2 separate regions of the Homo sapiens genome follow, and region 1 is linked to region 2. The links come from fine-mapping of genetic effects on gene expression. A gene starts in region 2. The other region holds a variant in brackets. All regions are shown on one strand. Distances are from middle to middle.

Region 1 (10,036 bases), 58 kb before region 2:
TTACAGGCGTGAGCCACCACATCTGGCCTTGTTTTGGTTTTTTATGTTTTTGTTACCTGGTAATCTCTTTTAAAAATACATTTAATAGAATTTCACTGGCAGATAATGAGTTGCTGAAGGCTGCCTTCTTTGCCTCTTACTTCCTACTCTCCAGCTTCCAAACCCCTCTATTGGGAGTGGGGGATTCTAGGCTGACCAGGAGGAAAGAAGCTGACACTAACACTGGTTCCCTGGTTCCTATGAAACCAAGCTTATCCTGCCTGTACTAAATCTTACTAAAGCTGTAACTGAGTCTCTAAGAATAACTTCAGACTGCCTCAGAACACAGACATCAGTGTGTTCTCTAGGTACTTGTCCAAGCATTTCTGAAACAGCTAAGCTCAACTTATAGTAAAATTGCACCAATATCAAAATTATGGATTATTCGAGGTCTTACTAGCAAAAACCAGTCTTGGTAACACTGAATGCAGTCTTCCTAATGACTTAGTAAATACAGGATGTGCTACCCAAAGTGAACATATTTTCAAAAAGAAAATATATTTAATATCATATCACAAGGTAATTGTTTAAAACGTTACTGCAATAATGAAACATGATTATTTAATTGCTGGCTTCCATAGTATGCTGTTACTCATTTTACATATTCACCGTGTATCCAAAACTGGAAATTTCACATCTTTTAAAAGGTGAGTTAAAGTTGTCATTTCAGAGGTGCCCTTCTTCATGTCCTATTTATGTTCCACTTGGAATAAGAACTAATATTTTTACTGTTTCTTTTTCACCCTGCCCACCATATAAATTTTCCAATAAGAAAATATTTTTAAAAGAGCTCTCAAGTGTAAAAGAATTCTTTCTTGCTATAAATAATTATCCCTAAATATTTCTCTTTAAGGAGAGTTCACAAACTGGGTCTTGTTCAAGGGGCGTACTCATCAAGGCTATACAGTGTGGCCCCAGAGCTGACACACTGGGGTGCATAGCTACTCATCCATCCATAAAACAGCACACTGCACACATCCACAGCCCAAAGTATCCCTGACTACTTGTGGTGACTGATGGGGCAATTGTGGCTGCTACTTATGAGGTTGTACAAGATGGAAACTGCATCCACATTGCCCCAGGGAAACACTGTGGCTGTCACCCACACCCACAGGAGAGAACCCCATTCCTGCAAACACGGCCTTTCTCCAGCACCCACGCTGGCCCCATGGGACAACAGGTTTAAGGAAGAGCAGCTCCAGAAGCAGCGAGATTTGTATCTCCCACAGTCCTGCATGAAAATGATCACACGCTCATACACACATACCCCAAATTATTGGCAGGCTCTGTGAATACAAATCGAGAGGGACAAATCTGTGTGCAGCTGGCAGCAAGGTCAGGGAGAGAACATGACTCACATCCCAGCTTAACCACAGTCCCTCTGGCCTTTGACAGAATAAGCATCATATGATATGATCAGTCCCCACAGGCCTGGGAGGTAAGTACGCAATTGCCACAGGGGTTTTCAATCTTACAATGGAGTGGTCCGGAAAACAGCAAAGGTCAACTCTCAGAGGGAAGGGTAGTGTGTGCCACACAAGAAGGGTTAGCCCACTTCTGTAAGCGTGTCACTTCCTCTCCCCTTTCTGATTCGCAGCCCTTCCAAGTCAGATTTCCACCATTCATTCCAAAACCTTTAAGATGTTTCACAAAGGGGAGGAAGGAAGAAGGAAAGTAAGAAAGACCACACTGAGATCCTATGAGGCCATTGAGTGTGGAAACGCTGCATTCAAATGTGCCCTCTGCTAACAAGGGAAACTATGGCTTCCTCACACCGACTCCTGAGAGTTGGGAAGGTGGAGGGAAGGATGGTACATGACCAAGCCTGCCATCACCAAATGAGGGACCACACAGCAGAAAGATGAAGCCCAGGCTCCTGACACACTGGAGTTCACGCTTCAGCCTGTGACCTCTGTGGGCCAGTTCACCTCAGGGCCAGGCGTCACTGAGACTGTGGGTTCTGGGAGCCCTCTTTGCTTTTACTGTCCTCTGCCGGGCTGCACTCGGACCCCGTGATGGAGGACTTGCACCCGCGAAGCACGTGGGCATTCAGCATCTCCAGCAGCAGGTCATACACTGGGACCACATTTTTGCACTTCATGTTGAGCAGATGTTCCATGCCCTTGTTACTATGGGGACAAAAAGGTGCTGAGATTCCCTCCTCCGAGGCAGCCACAGGAACCCCGAAGCCTTCCCCGGCTCTCTTTGCTCAGAGCCAGTCTACCCCACCCCTAAACCCACTCTTCCCCCAGCCCATTTATCCATGGCTCGTGCATCCAGCTCCCCCTGATAATTTAGGCTCAAGGGCAAGGACGATGTCTTGTCAGCCTCTGTGTCCCACCACACACCTACAATGGCCTGACACATAGGACAATCAATCCTCATTGTTTGCGGTAATTATGTTCCGTAAAGTCACTGTGAACACTGAATCCTCACTCATAGGGGAAATACAGGGTTAGGTTCCTGCAAGCCTCTGGCCACATCTTCATCAGCTGATCAATACAAAACCTTGTTTTATGTGTGTTTCTTTCTAAAGATGCCTTATGTGATAAATACCATTGACTCATTAACATTGAACTCATGGCCAGCAGCACTATAACTCACACCCGAGCAAAGCTTAACACATACTTTCTCCATAAGGCACATCACAGCTTTTTCACACCGAGGAACACTAGACAGGTCTTCAGCACCACACCAGGGGGGCATTTTAAACAGTGAAGTCACCAAAAGCACAAAAATGTAAAACCATGGCACTAAGTAGACCAAGTAAAGGACACTTGTTGACAGTATGAGAGCAGCTGCTTGTTCCATCTCAGCTGGGACTGTACATAAAGGGCAACTCAAAATTTCTGCCACTCTGTTCATGACCTCAAAAACACCACAAATATTGATTTTGGGGTTACAAATAAATTTTAGCAAGCAGATAAATTCACAATGAAGGAATCTACAAACACAGGATCTGTTCTGCAAATGGCTATGTGCTGAGCAATCATTAAAGGGGAAAGGCAGAGGTCTTCATCTCACTTAAGATTCTCGAGGTGTATATTGTCCTTCTCCACAGCCTCTAGACTTGCCTCCTCAGTGACCAGTTAATTACCTTCCACCCTCCCCTCCCCTCCTCCAGCTCCAGGGCAAGGCTACCCTCATCGTGGGTGACACCAAGCACTGAGCATCATTGTACCAACAGTAGCCACCACTGCACACCCTCTTCATCAGCACACACAATTACGTTTCCTGATCAGAAACATGCCCTACCTACAGCCCTGCCTTCCTAAATCTGCTGGGTCCACCACTTCTCTTAAGTCTTATCCTTAATTTCCTGATGCCACCGAAAGAACAACTCTTAGGGAAGCATTTGTGCACTTCTTCGCATCACCAGCTCGAGGGGCCATCTAGGGGAGCGGGTCTTAGCCTCTCCACAAAAAGTGGCCTCAGGGCCTCAGCCCTGGGTGGTGTAAACAGGGGTGGCAGTTCGTGTTAGGGGAGGAACTGCCCCTTTTAGGACTCCATAAACAGGCTATAAACCCCAGCAATTGAAAAACCCATGAGCCACCACTGGCTGCCATGCAGAGCCTGTAAGATACCACATGACATTCCTTCCATGCCCACTCTGTGCCCATCTTTGCTTACAGGTGTGTGAACTGACAAATTCCCCATTCCCTTTCAGGCATTCATTTTCCTTAACTTGCAGACACTTTTCCCAAATCACTTCACCCTCCGTGGAGCACATAATCCCATCCCAAGCCCAAGCAGAGCAGCTCCTTAGGGCGCGTACCTCGCATGCCTGACGTGGGACAGGAGCATCAGGAGGTTAGCCAGGCGCATGGATTGCTGCTGGGAGGAGATGCCGCTCTTGGCAATCACCCAAACCAAAGCATCGGTCACGGCGTTCAGCAAGTGAGCCAGCTTCCGGCTGCTGTCAGCATCCTGGGTCGCTGTGACCAGAGGGTACATACCTGGACAAAGAATAAAAGCCAGAAGTCATTGCTCTGAGCAAAGGAGCAGAAGTCGTGTGCTCAGCTGTTCCGTGCGCCTGCTCCGAGGTGATCTGGGTTGCTTTGACAGCTGCATGTGTGGCAGGAGCTTATAAGCATGGTCTTACCTCCCCCAGGGGATCTTCCCTGAGAGCCAGCCCCGTCACAGAGCTAGAAGAGAAGCCTGGCCTAATGCAGACAGACTAAATTGCCACCTGAAGTGTCCACCAGGCCCATAATTGTGGCCTTGCCGTGGCGAGTATATCTAGTCTCCCGAAATCATTACGTGGTGTTTCTCATCTGCAGCAACAGATACAGAGATGGTCAGAAAGTGAGATTAATTCTACTTTTAGCCCCACGGAGGGCTCCCCATCTAAAGGGAGTTTAATAAACAAAGGAATGGCCAATGTGATGAAGCCTCCTCTGCCACCTCCTTGTGTGTACCACGTGCCGCAGCCAGCCATGGCAGGGCCCCTGCTACCACCTCTGCATCTCGCTTGAGTGGCACCTGGCTGGGGCAGGAAGACCACTGATTTGGAGTCAGACAGACCTACTTTCTAGCCACCATCTGGAGCTCTCTGAGCCTCAGTTCCTCACTGAGCAACGCATGCAGGAACACATCTGCTTAGGTCCCCACAGCCACGTCCTGGGTAGGCTGCCTCCCCCATCCTGCCCTGCCCTGTGTTTAACTCCCCTCCAACTCTAGGATTGAGATACTGTGGCATCCCAATGGCAGCAAAGTAACAGCTCAGATAAATCTCCTCCCCCCGACCCCTGCCTGACTCCTTGATTCCCTTTAATAATTAGCTTCTCTTCCAGGCTTTCCATTTCAAAGCAAGAATAAATATGTGAAATCAACCAGGGAGCTGCTGAGTCTTGGCTGTCATGAGACTGATGATGGCTGGTGCTCCAGCAACCACAGAATTTGTTTTGGCAGTTTTTGTTCTCTATTTTTATTGGCACTTTCAGTTCAATTAAGGCAGCTCAATTCAACTAAGTTTAACTCAGGTAAGGCAAGGGACATTCTGAAGCACAATTACGTAAGTGTAGTGCTTTGCCACATCCCTAGGGACCTCCATAATGTCTGATGATACGAATTTAAAATATTCATCTTTTCAATAGCCCTGAAGCTGCTTCTCCAATCCCTGTGCTCACTTTGTTCTCCACATTGGTTCTTCCAGAATCCCCCCACAGCCTCAAACCTCCCACTGTCGCCCCAGAGATGACTTGCCCTCCCACCGCAGGGGAAACAAGACCCCACCCTTGGCCCCGTGTGTCCCCTTCTGAGAGGCCAAAAAGCAGATCTGCTCATGGGGCTCCGTTTAATGACTTCCCAGCTCATAGGATAGAGTCCAAACCACCTGGTGCAGCTATCAGAGGTACCAGGGCCCTCCCCGCTTCTCTCATCTGCAGTTCCCACCACACCTCGCCTTGAGTCCCCCTCTCAACTCCCTGAATGTGTGGTGCTCCGAACATGCTCAACTTGCTGCTTGGAAACTCTCTCCTTCCTCTTTCTCTACCCTGATTCTTTTGCTCATTTATACCCATTCCTCCTGTAGATTCCAACCTGGTCAGAAATTCCTTCTGGAAGCTTCCCCCAACCTCCCTACCATCCCACCCTAAGTCTGGTCTGAGGTGTCCCCTGATACTCTGACAGTGCCCTGTTCATCCTCAGCAGAGACACCATGTTGCCCCACATGCTGGAT[G/T]TCTGCCTTGTCCCCACACACACCCCACAGCCACCCTTCTGCCCTCAGCAAGACTGGACATGAGTGCTTTGAGGGCACAGACCTTTTTTTTTTTTTCTTTTCTTGAGACAGAGTCTCACTCTGTCACCCAGCCTGGAGTGCAGTGGTACAATCTCAGCTCACTGCAACCTCCGCCTCCCGGTTTCAAGCAATTCTCCTGCCTCAGCCTCCTTAGTAGCTGGGATTACAGGCATGCGCCACCATGCCCAGCAAATTTTTTGTATTTTCAGTAGAGACAGTGTTTCACCATGCTGGCCAGGCTGGTCTCAAACTCCTGACCTCGCAATCCGCCTGCCTCAGCCTCCCAAAGTGCTGGGATTACAAGCGTGAGCCACTGTGCCCGGCCAGACCCTTATTTTTTTTAGCCAAACACACATCATATTTGAAATGGTAAATATGCATGCTAATGTATGTTTTAGGTACACACAGAAAATTATCAAAAGTACAGAGAAAATTATTTCAAGCTTACTTTCCCTAAAATTAACCCCATCTGCATAAACAAGTACTTCCTTTTAACTACCCCGTAGTGTGTTCAGCTGCATGACATGTGCTCCATGGACTTCCGCTGCCATCAAGCAATACTATGTCTGGGAATTCCAAAAGGAGCCAAAATTGTGTGCCTGTACATGTCTCAGTTCAAAGTGACAAAGATTGAAAATATAAAAACAAATCCTCAGATTATAAACAAATGTTCATAGCAGCATAACTCAGCCTAAAAGTGGAATGTCCACTAACTGACGAATGGCTCAACAAAATGTGGTCTATCCATACAGTGGAATAGTATTCAGCTACGAAAAGGAATGAGGTACTGATACAGATGAACCTTGAAAACATCAGGCTAAGCAAAATAAGCCAGACACAAAGGACCACATGTTGTATGATTCCATTTATAATAAAATGTCTAGAATAGGCAAATCCATAGAGTCAGAAAAGCAAATTAGTGGTTGCCTAGGGCTGTGGGTGGGATAGGGAGTGGGAAATGATGGCTAAGAAGCATGGGGTTTCTTTTCAGGTGATGAAAATGTTCTAAAATTGATGGTGGTGATGGTTGCACCACATACCGTGAATAAACTAAAAACATTGAACTGTATACTTAATATGGATAAATTATATGGTAAATGAATTATATCACAATAAAGCTGTTACTAAAAATAATAGTAATAATAATAATAAAAGAACGCCTCAGAACCAAAGTTACAATAACATAAATTCCCTGGGCTGTGTGCAACGAAGTTTCCCCTCAGAGAACACGTATGTGTCATTGTGTTACCCACTTCACGAACCACAGTCATTGCCAAGGCCAGACCCTGGGCCTTCTGCAGGCTGTAGGGGCAGCACAGCTCCACCTGGGGCCCAGAGTCCATCAGCCACAGCGGTTTGGGGAGGTGAGGCACTGCAGTTGTGGAAAGGCATATGCGAAATCCATTTTACATATGGTGGGGTAGGGGGGCAGTGTATATACAAAAAGACTGACTTACATAAAATTATCCTGGAGACTCCTGTTCTCATTGATCACATAGAAAAGAAATACCCTCCCAGAAAAGAACTGTGCTGAAGAATACCCATGCTGCTGCCTGGCTCTCCAGTCAGCAGTGCGTGCCTGCACCTCAGACATCCATGCTCAGGCCCTTGCTCATCAAATACATATCTACAGAGTACTTGCTAAGTGGCAGGCCCTGGGCAGCATGGGGCAAGGGACAAGATCCAAAGCTCTGCCCAGTCAGGCACAGAAAACCACAAAAATATAGCACCCTCTCCATCCCCCAAAAGTAAAAACATCAGTTAGGATTCACTGTAAAACAAAATTAAATTACTTTTGATGAAACGGAAGAAGTATAGTTTAAAAAAAAAAAACAAAAAAAACCAAGATCTTGGCACCATGCCTCACACATACCAAAGAAAGTGAAATAAAATCAAGGACACAATCTTCTCTCCCCTTTATCAGCTGGGAACAGCTGTGTGCTCCTCTCACCAGCCCACCTGGTGACATTCTGAGCAGCACAGTGGTGGGGGACAGCCACCTCTCCTTCAAGATTTGCCACGTCTGATTTGTTCAAAGGATGAAAACATAAGCTTTCCTTGACTGAAGGCAAATAAATGAGAAAAATCTAATGTGCTAATAGAAGTCCCAGAATACTGACCAAAGGGAAGAAGTCCTGGCTTTGGGGAGCCGTATGTGGCGTTTGCTTGTTTGCTTTGAGGAAAGGAACCTCTGGCCATGACCCACGCCCTCTGTCACCACCTCCTGCCCCCAGCACATGAGGGCAGATGGGACTCAAAAGGTGCCATGGTGTGAGGCTGCAGGCTGCTGTTCAACTGTGCTTTGCCCCAGTGTTCTTGGTCAACAGAAAAGGACCCCCGCATCTTTCCTCATCAGCATCCATCTATGTCTTTGTCTTCTCCACCCACCCACTCCATGGGAACTCTCCCTATAAACTCAGAGGGAACTAGGGTTTAAGCCAGTGTCTCTTAATAATTTTCTTAATGTAAAATAGGATTTCCTGGCTTAACCCCTCTATTTCTTTCATTTAATGAAAAGTTTCATCCTTTGTAAATCTTAAAACTGTTTAAATAGACTTGTTTCTAATTTAAAATATTTTAAAGACTATGGATAATCAATGTAATTAATTACACTCTAATTCCTAAATTCCATACCCCCTCTAATTCTATCCAAGGGAGGATTTGGGTGGCAAGATGGCCAGTCTGTCTGTTGGGTGTTGGGTAGGCTATTTTATTAACTATGACACTTGCATAACACCTTAGAGTTTATAAAAACACTCTAACAAGCATTGTAACAGGTTGTTAAATGCAACATTTTTCTGTTGTCTCTTACTCTCAAGAGCCATATCAAAGGCTAAGTATGATACAGGAATTCCAAGTACCACACAACCTATATATGCATAGTGGAAGAGGATTGGCTGAGAGAGTTAGAATGTTGTGGTCCTTTCCCTTGCCTCCCCAAGAGAGAAATATGTGCCTCTCCACTTAAGCCCACCATGGATCAGACCTTTGATTAACTATTTGAGTATATATCCCATTCTAGACCAAAAGCATTATATCTAAATCATTTTGACATCCTTAGTATTTAGAAGTCATTAATATACATACCAGAAACTGAGCTGAAATTTAGCTGGATGACACAGTTAATTTCCATTCCATATTATAGCCATTATTAGTAGATATGCATAACCCAGAAATGGGCAGCTTTTAAAACATGACTACTGACAAACCGCGACCTGGCCAGCTAGCGTGCTGTACCACTGCAGATGTGATTGAGTGACATAATCCTAACTTAAGCATGTCACATACACAGGAAAACAGGAGACCAAACTATGCAGGAGACCATCGTCAGACAGCCCAATGCTTATCTAGCCTGGCAAGGCCATCTAGCAGCAACCAAATGCAGCGCTTGGAAACTCTGCTATCCTAACATGGAATAGAGAAGTTCGCAGCCTTTTGACTTAAGAGACCTACCCCCATTTCTCCTCTCCTGACCCTTATCCTCCAGGGCCTCCACCCTGTGATTTGGTTCCCCGCTTGGTGGTATTTCTTTTCCATTTAGCCTACAAACTTTGCTCTCTTAATCTTTTTGTTTTGCTTTCATTACATTGTTTACAGATTCATCCAGGTATACCTGACATGCAATAACCTGCACATATTTTGCGTGTACGATTTGATGTACTTTGACATACATATACATGGTGGAGCCATCACCACAACCAAGATAATGAACACACTCAGCTGCAAGTTTTTGCATTCAGTAGAAACTGTACTTCCAGTACACATACAACCATTGTGTTTTTTCGTTTTTCAGTACAGTAACTTTCAGTATTCCATAAATTACATGAAATGTTCATTACTGTATTATAAAATAGGCTTTATATTAGATGATTTTGCCCAACTGCAGGGTAATGTAAGTATTCTGAACACATTTAAGATAGGCTAGGCTGGCCGGGCGCGGTGGCTCACGCTTGTAATCCCAGCACTTTGGGAGGCCGAGGCGGGCGGATCACGAGATCAGGAGATCGAGACCATCCTGGCTAACACGGTGAAACCCCGTCTCTACTAAAAATACAAAAAAAATTAGCCGGGCGTGATGGTGGGCGCCTGTAGTCCCAGCTACTGGGGAGGCTGAGGCAGGAGAATGGCGTGAACCCTGGAGGCGGAGCTTGCAGTGAGCCGAGATTGCGCCACTGCACTCCCGCCTGGGCCACAGAGCGAGACTCCGTCTCAAAAAAAAAAAAAAAAAAAAAAAAAGATAGGCTAGGCTAAGCTATG
Region 2 (10,036 bases):
ATTTCCAGACAAGTTACAATGTCTTTATGGCCACCCTGAAGATTTTTGCCTCCTAATTTTACTTTTTGACTTCTGTCCACAGAAATCCATCACCCCTAGTCCAGATAGCTGGGCTGCTGGTAGCCTGCCAACACTGTGTGTGTGGACAAAATGCCACATATTCCTGATGCCATATTCTCAAGCTTGCAGACTAGGAGGATAAGTCTAGGAGGATAAGAATAGAGGATAAGTCCTCATCCCTATTCTTCTTCCACCTGCCCATCACACTTTCCCAAGCATTCAGTTCAAATGCTCCACATTTGTGTGTCCTGCAGAAGTAAAAAATTCACGCTCACAAAGCAGCAACTAGAAGGAATTTCATGGAAAAGATTTAAAAAGATTTCTTAAGCAACAAGCATCCTTGATGTGCATAAGTAGCTGTTTGACAATTATTAGCTTTTTTGGGGGGTGGGGGTTATACTCTAGCTCTGTAACTCAGGCTAGAGTGTAGTGGCAAGATCATGGCCTACTGCAGCCTTGATCTCCTGGGCTCAAGGGATCCTCCAAACTCAGCCCCCCAAGTAGCTGGGACTAAAGGCATGCACCATCATGCCCAGCTGATTTTTAAATTTTTGTAGAGATAGGGTCTCACTGTGTTGCCCAGATTGATCTTGAACTCCTTGCCTCAAGCAATCCTCCCACCTCGGCCTCCCAAAGTGCTGTGATCACAGGCATGAACCACCACACCTGGCCAATTATTATCTTTAAATGTATTCTTATTTATTTATTTATTTATTTATTTAGAGATAGAGTTTTGCTTTGTTGCCCAGGCTGGAATGCAGTGGCATGATCGCGGCTCACTGTAAACTCGGCCTCCCAGGTTCAAGCAATTCTCATGCCTCAGCCTCCTGAGTAGCTGGGACTACAGGCTTGAGCCACCATGGCCAGCTAATTTTTTGTATTCTTAACAGAGACAAGGTTTCATTATTTGGCCAGGCTGGTCTTGAACTCCTGCCCTCAAGTGATCCAGCCACCTAGGCCTCCCAAAGTGCTGAGATTACAGGCGTGAGCCACCACACCCAGCCTTTTTAAATATATTCTTTCAAAACAAAATATTAAGGCCCTCAATTAATTTAATATTAGGAAGATAAAACACTCCAAAATCACCAGAGAACTCATCATTAATAACTGATTTGCATGTAATTCTTAAGAACATGTACATAAGGAAACCCTGTTTCCTTCTAAAATGAGGAAAAGCTAATTCTCCTAGTAACCAATTGGCGCTTATTTAGTTGGATAGGAAAGAGTTTCAAGGGTTTGAATAGGGTAGGAGGACCAAGCCTCGAAGGCAGGGGTGGGAGAGAGTTCATCAGTCTTCTCAAGTGTCTTCTCTCTCAACAGCAAGTTTCTGCTCTTCCCTAACACCAACAACAGCCACAGACCATGCTCTGTAGGAACTGGACCAAATTCAAATATTCATTTGGGACAGGGTCAGAGAGAATTCCGAGTGAAGGGATTCAAGATGACACAGCCAATCCAGAAGTTAGGCTGAATGCACTCAACTCCCCTTCCAGGCCTGGGTTTGACAGTAGAACACACAACAATTTACTAACAAAATGCTGCAGTCTGGCTTTGAGGAAACATATACAAGTCCAGCAATCTATCTTTCTAGGTCACCCTAACTCTCCTGCCCTCTCTCAAGTACACCCACACAAAGATTCTCCACTAAAAGCCCTTCATTTTCAAGACCTGTCATAATTCCAGCTAGGAAGGCCAACTATCCAGTTTGCTAGCTCCTCATAAACTTGCCACTCTGCATATCCTAGTTACTACCACTGTAACTGGGTATGCAAGGTAAGTTACATATTTAAAATACAGGCTGTTTTTCATAGAACAAAGGAAAAAGGAAAAAGACATCAATTTTATATATATATATGTTAGCAGTACCTACCAATAACAGGCTCCTAACTGTATACTGAATTGAATACTGTGTTAAACAGTGAAAAATATTAGTTTACAAAAGGTTATACATCTCCACCCTGCAGGAAAATCTAGACTTCAAGACATGAGCACAGAAATTTAAAAATCCTGACATCTACAAATAAGTTGGACACAGACCTAAGCCCCTATGAAGATAAATATTTTACCTTCAGCAATTGTAATCACTCTGCATTTTAAATGTCTTCAATTTGTCATTTTCAATCCCTGTTTTGCTTCTCACTATTTGATAATATGCAATTTCAGGTAGCTTTCTTAATCTCAGGTATAATGAAAAGTAGTTTTTTTTTTAATAAAGAAGTTTTAAAATTCAAAGATTATAAAAGAATGATGCATTCTATTAATATGATATAAATAACTTTTAATGGCCTTGTATTTCAATTCAGGATAACTAATGATATATGCCATAACCAAAGGCTTAAACCACAATAGAATCTAAATCTGCTAAGAACTAAATCTATTAGCCCTATATGAATTTAACACTTAGTCCAAGTCTCAAGTTTCCCATTTGCAAATAGCATTGTCTTTGCCTTGATTTATCCCAAGGTACTAGAATTAAAAATAGCACAAACTGACTCATCCTATAAAAAGGGAAAAACAGGTTTTTCTTTCAAAAGAAGTAAAGGAAAATATGTCTAAGTAAAAACGTACTAAAGAGCAAAACCACATAATCATTATGTAGTTTTGATCAGTGATTTTCAGGGGCAGTGGGGTAGGTAGAGGTACAAAGGGGACTTTTGGGGTAATGGAACTGTTCTGTGTCATGTGTGCGGTGCTGGTTACATGACTGTGCATCTGTCAGAATTCATAGAGGTACATTTACAGAGGCTAAATTTTACTGTATGTAAATTATACTGCTGTAGCCTAATTTTTTTAAAGTGCTATTGCATATAAAACAATGTGCTAGACACTGAATTATGAAATCTAACGTTCAAGCATACAATTCTCAAGGTTTCTAGATGTATTATCAAAAACTTATCATTAAACACTTTGAGTTCAGCCTTCAGTATTTTATATTTTATCCATATTTATATTCTATAAAACGACTCAAAGCATCACCTAAAATTATCACATGAATTTTGAATTATTATGTGTTCAACATACACTTATAGAAAATTTCCTTCTTATTCTTAAAAGTGAACATATCAATATCTATTAAATGTTAATTATATGGTTATGAGTTGAATTTACTACTAAATTCTACCTTTTCTGAATTATAAATACATTAAGAAATGTAAACTGTGATTAGATTTATTCACATCCCTCAGAACACTACGAAATGTGTCCTAAACATGTTAATTGATTTCAGAAACTTCTATGTCTTGAGCAAGACTTAAGTGTTAACAAGCATCTGATGGCTTTTAAAATAAGAATGTTTCAGAAATTCATCTAAAAAAATGCTTGAACGTAAAATGCAATCCTACGGTGTATACTCTAATGCCTGTTGATGAACAGATCCTTATAGTTTCCTTCTTCTAGAACTCATATCAAAATACATTTTCTTCAGAAAAAATAGGAGTCAAAGATGTTAATCATGTTCTTTTCATAGTCACGTTACATTTGTTTTACAACACTCTCAGAAAAGCCTTTCCTTTCACATGTTCACTTTTTAAATTACAAACATGTTTCCCCTCACTAGACACCGAGTTACGAAACTTAGAGCAAAAGTAAAACTTTCTAATGGAATGCCCATGTAAATACTAGAAATATAACAAAATAAGGCAAAGTCTGTCCTCCAAAATGTTGCCTACCACACCAAAACACAATCCTGCTTTTTAAACAGCGAGTAAAATTAAATCAACCTTATCTTCCTAAATAGAAGTCCACTCAAAGTTTTTTCACAAAAATGACATTCACTTGACTTAATATTGTCCTTCCAATAAGAATAACACGCAGGGTGTTAGAGGGCAGTTGTTGGACTCCTCTTCAGCAAATAAAGGAGACCAGTTAGAGCTTAGCTTGGTCTGCCCAGGAAAGGAGGAACGCAGCTTGCTGACATGGCTAAGGAATGCCAATTAATACATTTTAAAACCCCTATCATCTTGCCTGAGACGTGTACATCTTCCCAGGCCCTCAAAGTTCAATCAGAAAGTGTATTCAACTCCATTGTCATTTCACCCATAGTGGGGAAGTCCATCGAGGAAAACCATAGGGAAATAAAATGTTTTTCAGTTATTCATATTAGCACAATCAACCCAGAGCTCACGGCACAAACTAAATAAGTTAACTTGCCAGTGTCTTGAATGAAGACATTTAATCAAAGCATGCATTTTCCAACTTTCCAGTAGCTTTCAGGACAGTTGGTTTTGGTGATCGTTTTTTGGTCTTTTATTGTTCTCAACACGACTGGTTTCTCACCGCAGGATTTCAAACAAAATGAGACAATTAAACCACACCTCGAGCGAAGGGGCGCTTACCTTGCAGATAAACACACCGGCCTTGCCTTCTCTAAAATGCGGACACGTGCTTTTCCCGCATTAGGGGGGGTCTCCCGGCGCGCGCCCCGCCGCCACCTGTTGAGGAAAGCGAGCGCACCTCCTGCAGCTCAGGCTCCGGGCGCCAGCCCTGCCCCGCAGCCCCAGAGCCCGTCGCAGCTCGGGTGGTCCCTCCCCGGCCCAGCGCTCGCCGCCTGCTCTTCGCCCTGCAAGTTTCAAGAGGCAGTTATTTCTCGCAGCCTCCGCGCTTGCAACTGCCTCCTGGCGGGGGAGTGGGTGTCCAAAAAGCCAGCAGCTGGAGAAACTGAAAAGATCACAAGCGACTTAACGATAAGCCCCTTCTTCCTTTTAAAGACCGAGAGGAGGGTAGAGGGGAGTAGTGCCTGAGCCCACGTGACCGAGCCAGGGAGCCCGACGGTCTCAGGAACGCCCGACGCCGCGCGTGACCTCTAAGTGGGAGCACCCTCGAACCGACTCCTGGTCCACCCACAAGGATAGTGGCGCACAGATGGCGCTCCCCGCAGCCCCAGTCTCAGATTTAAGAGGTCTGGAGTAGGGCCTGAGAATATGCATTTCCAACCAGGTCCTGGGGGATGCCGACACTGATACAGCCAGTCTGGGGACCACACTTCGAGGATCACGTCCTCAGCCCCTGACTCACATAAGTGTCATTCAGAACAGATGTCTGATTCTAAGGAGCCAGTGGTGAAACCAGAGAGGCTTTGGGTTTGTCAAATCCCCAGCAGCAAACGTAACCTCGGGCCCTGGAGTGGCAAAGCCGTGGACTAGAGGTGGAGGGAGTGGGTTCTCAGCTCTCAAGAGGTCACTGGGAAGGCCTTTCGCGTTAGATCAAAGATCCCAGGTACTTCCTCGAACTCACTTGAAGTGGCACCGGGGAGACCTGTGCCTCCGGCCACGGCGCCCTTCTCCGCTGGAGGCACCTGCCCACCCCTCTTCTCGGGCGAAGGCCCCTCGCGCCCCCTGGTGGCAGCCCCAGTTCCCCCAGCTTAATGGGGTGTTCCCCTCACCCACCCCAGCAGGAGCCCCAGGGTGCGAGACTAGGACCACAGTCTTAACTGGCTTTAAGGCAGCTGTTGCTGATGAAAATGAAAAGGAAAGTAGCATGTGACCCACAGGCCATTGTGAGAACCCCCCAGTGTCACATCTGTGCCTAATTAATCATCAAACCATCTACTCAGGTGGCATAAGGGACATGGTTTTTGAGGGTTGTGATCCAGATCTCTAATAGAGGAAGACGAGGGGGGGCATTTGGAGGGAAAGTTTTACAGTACCAGCCTCAGCTGTTTGGTGTTTAGCCAAAATAGAGAGACGCAAGTGTGCTCTGGGTTGATAAAGATGAGGTCCACAGGTAATGAAGACAGGCTCCAAAGATGGAGAAGCATCTGCTTCATCAGCTAAACAATAGCTGTGAAAAGTCTCCACTGCCCCACCCTAAGTCCAATTTTCATTAAAGCTGAGAGTCCTGGTTTCTCTCAGGTTGAAAGGCAGAGTCTCCCTGTCCTTGAGGCAGAGAAGTTAGTTTGGACGGGAAGAGTGTGTCGCTGGCAAATAACTGCAGCAGACAACATGCCAATCTCAGCCTCCCTGTCTCCTGTCCTGGGGTCTCTCAAAGTACCCAGTCCCCATATGCTCTTCCTCCTTGCCACCTTATGGAGAAAATGTTAAATGATGGTTTAAAAAAATCAGCTTCATGGCCAGGCATGGTGGCTCACACCTATAATCTCAGCACTTTGGGAGGCCGAGGCAGGTGGATCACGAGGTCAGGAGTTTGAGACCAGCCTGACCAACATGGTGAAACCTCGTCTCTACTAAAAATACAAAAATTGGCTGGACGTGGTGGCACATGCCAGTAATCCCAGCTACTCAGGAGGCTGAGGCAGGAGAATCGCTTGAACATGGGAGGCGGAGGTTGCAGTGAGCCAAGATCGCGCCACTGCATTCCAGCCTGGGCGACAGAGCGAGACTCTGTCTCAAAAAAAAAAAAAAAAAAAAAAATCAGCTTCATTTGGTGGTATATACTTGTTAACAAGATATCTCTGGAAATGGAAACCGTCATGAAGGAATTTCAACCATAAGCCAACAGGCAGAAAAAGATAGGTGAGGGTGAAGAAAATGCATCTATCAATATTAACATCATACCTGACGCTGTGCTAAGCACCTGCACAGCATCTCATTTAATCCTCACACCAGCTCAGTGAGATATTGACTCCACTTTTCCAGTGAGGAAATTGAGGCTCACAGAGCTTCTGTCAGCTACCTGAAGCCACCTAGTGAGAAAGGAACCCAGTAACAACAGTGGCTTCATAGACAGCTACCGCTTATTGGACATTTATGCCCCGCTTTCTCTCAATAATTCTTATTTTATACGCAAGCCTATAAGGCAAATTCTATTACCCCCATTTTATACTTGAGAAAATGAATGTTCAGGAAGGTTAAACAACCTCCCTATGGTCACATGACCTATCAGTGGCTAAGAAGGACTTGAATCCAGGAGAGAGGCCAAGGACCCATTTACCTCCATACCATGCCTCCAATCAATCAGAATGAAAATGGCTTGACTCTCTGCTCTATGCAGAACACTGCAGACAAACTTCTGCCACCTGTGTGCCAAGCTTCTGCTCTGTGTTCACTGTGATGCTTCCTTCAGAAGGCATTCTACACACAGGAACAGCATGTTCTCTTTTCAGAGCAGCTCAAACACCCACAGAAGCTGTTTATTATACAAGGAAACCTCACTGCAGGAAATAATAAGCAGAAAATGAATGGGAGTGAGTAAGTTTCCTTCTGACTCACCCTGTCCATCAAGAAAGACAATGGTACCCAGAGATGGAAACTTTGCCTGGTTTAATGCAGAGTGGAGAGGATGATTATTCCAATTCTACCTGAATTGTGACCACAATGATGAAGGGATTATTCTTGAGGCAGTTCATACCAATGGCTAGACCAAAAAGCCCCCTGAAGCCTGGTATTGAGAACGATGCCTGCTATATAAGTGAGCAGGGTCCCAGCCTCATTTCCACCTCACCCCTGACCTGCCTAAGGAAGCACCCACATATGACATTGAAAGGACTGCCTGTCTCCAAAATATCCTACAATGGGGATTGAAATTGTCACCATTAAGTCATCTTTTGGGGATAAAGCATTGAATTGTTAAAATTAAGTCATGTTATATATGATGGGTAATATTAACTTACTAGCATTTATGATTAACAAGATGAGCTTGCAGCATGAGCTAGATGTCACCTGGGAAAGCAAAGGAAGTCAATGTAGTACAGGTATGGTTTGCTGTGAAGAGGAAGGAAAGCCTCTCCATAAAAGGTGCACCTTCCTCATCTTCTCACCCCACCCCTTCTCTGTCTAGCAAAGTCTTACACATCCCAAAGCCAAGAGCCTAAATAAGGTGAAGAGCACATTAGCCCAGTGGAACGTGCACATTGGCTCCCCCACAGCCCTCATCTTACCTGTCAACACAACCTGCGCTGCGATTGGACAGCGCATGTCTTACATCTCTAGCATTCTCCATGGTCCATAACACCCACCTAGCACAATCCACGCGTTCAACAAATGTTTGCTGAAGCCTTTGACTTGGAAAGATCAGAGGGAGAATTTTCCGTAGGAAAGAAACTACCAAGAGGCAAAACAAAACCCTGTAAAAGGCAAGAAAGCAAAAGCTAATAGGAAAAGTGGAGGGAAAGGAGGAATGCTACAGATGTCTAGAAGGGTGTCATGCCAAAGGGTGCCTTTGGATTGTTGCTTTATTCTCTGAGCTTGAAGCCAAGTAGGAGGATTTGGGTTCTGGGATAGTTATCTGCTCCAGAGTGTTATAGGAACAAGCTTATTTATATTATGTGGGTATAAATTGGTCTGTTTTAAGAGAATCTGAGAGATAAAACCCTACACTTATGGAATTAATAAAGGGGAAAGATTAATTGAACGTGCAATAACACCTTTTTTTGGTGGTGATGAATGAAAAAGATAGGATTACTAATTAATATGTCAGAGATCATCTCAACTGAACATAAAGTTCACAAAATGTGATTTGACATTTGAAACTTGAATTTGGATAGAGCTCTTTAGGATCACATCTTTTGTAGAAATAAAAACAAACCTAATATTTATTGAGCATTTTTCTAGCCTGGACACCACAGTAGGCAGGCTTGCATAGGTTGATTCACTTTTATTTCATTTAATCCTTGAAAATTCCCTGGGACTGTCTATTTTACAGATGGGAAAACTGAGGCTCAGAGAGCTAACATTTATTTTATAAAGTCACCCATGTGCATTTGGTAGGGTGAAAGTTTCCACCCAACTTTACCTACCTACCTGCACATCCCATGTTTTCTCCACTGTCATGAGATGCTGTTCTTATTTGTTGCATAAATGGAGGCATGTCTGTCCTGTAGAGCCCAGATACTGTTGAATGAAATGTTGTCAATTTCTTGTCTAGGAATGACCACCTATGAGCATATTTATGTAACTTATTCTTTATTGATCTGCGTTGGACTGGGGCCCTCAGAGGGTAACAAGGACATAAGCAGCAAGACAGACCCAACCTGATACCTGGGCACCAGGACCATGAGACAAGGTTGCTCTGACCTGCAGTTTAAATGAACCACCTGAGCAAGCAGCACCTGCAGCCAACTCTTTCTAAATCACACTCATGTGTTTCAGTCTTGATCTTTGCTATTTGTAAACAAACAGGTAAAAAATAACTTTTTGTCCTGTCCACTGCCCCTCAAAGGTACTTAAATTCCACACAAATCCCTTGCATACCTTAAGTTTCTAATTTTCTATGCATTTGAAATCAAACATGAAGCATACACATTTTTGTCCTTACTTCCAACTCTGCAGCAATTCTCTTGAGCTAGAAGAGAAACTAGCCCCTAGAGGTCATTGGCATGAATGTGAACACCCAGTTAAGAAAAAAAAAAAAAAAAGTTATAGGACTGTTAGAAATGGCGGCAAATTGTAATATGCAATTTCACAAATGACTCAAATGCAATTCTGAAAATGCAGCTTCCTTACATTTTCTGGCTCAGAAGATATTAATAAGTCAGCCAGTGTAATATTCCCTGAAATGAGATAAAAAAAAAAAAGGTACAGACAGACATGGCTTGAGACCATAGATAAGACTGTCTGATTTCATAGTTTAATATTTCAAAAAATATTTCAAAAATTTTGACTAAAGTTTTTTCTACATCTTCTTGTAAATGTATCTAACATTTTCAATTTCTTTGTTCATATCATGGAAAGTTACTATAACTGCCTCATATTGTCCTTTAGACCCATAGCAACTAACTCTCCAGTGATGCTCATTACAGAAATAGCTTTTTTTTTTTTTTTTTTTGAGACGGAGTCTCGCTCTGTCGCCCAGGCTAGAGTGCAGTGGCACAATCTTCCGCCTCAGCCCCCCAAGTAGCTGAGACTACAGGCACCCACCACCACACCCGGCTAATTTTTTTGTATTTTTTTAGTAGAGACAGGGTTTCACCGTGGTAGCCAGGATGGTCTCGATCTCCTGGCCTCCTGATCCACCCGCCTCCGCCTCCCAAAGTGCTGGGATTACAGGCGTCAGCCACCGCGCCCAGCCCAGAAATGGCTTT

Alleles and levels. Alleles are on the strand shown, and positions count from the first base shown. SD is a standard deviation of normalised expression in the study named.
For the expression in atrial appendage of the gene that starts at base 4,733 in region 2, allele G in region 1 goes with a higher level than allele T (small effect, 0.33 SD a copy in GTEx).

Evidence for each region.
Region 1: its variant is fine-mapped to the expression of ESR2 in atrial appendage (GTEx, PIP 0.97).

Annotation. Positions count from the first base shown.
Region 1 is chr14:64,231,156-64,241,191 of GRCh38, forward strand. It overlaps ESR2 (estrogen receptor 2), which reads right to left. Exons shown (of 9, transcript NM_001437.3): 8 at 3,815-3,995; 9 at 1-2,168. The coding sequence ends at 1,982. LOC124903328 (a long non-coding RNA gene) reads left to right here. Exons shown (of 2, transcript XR_007064205.1): 2 at 3,707-4,032. Among named protein-coding and RNA genes, the nearest start is that of ESR2, 58 kb to the right of the region's middle. RefSeq lists enhancers at 1,256-1,325, 3,989-4,048, 4,689-4,958. The variant G/T (reference allele first, on the strand shown) is at 5,720.
Region 2 is chr14:64,289,639-64,299,674 of GRCh38, forward strand. ESR2 (estrogen receptor 2) reads right to left here and starts at 4,733. Exons shown (of 9, transcript NM_001437.3): 1 at 4,395-4,733.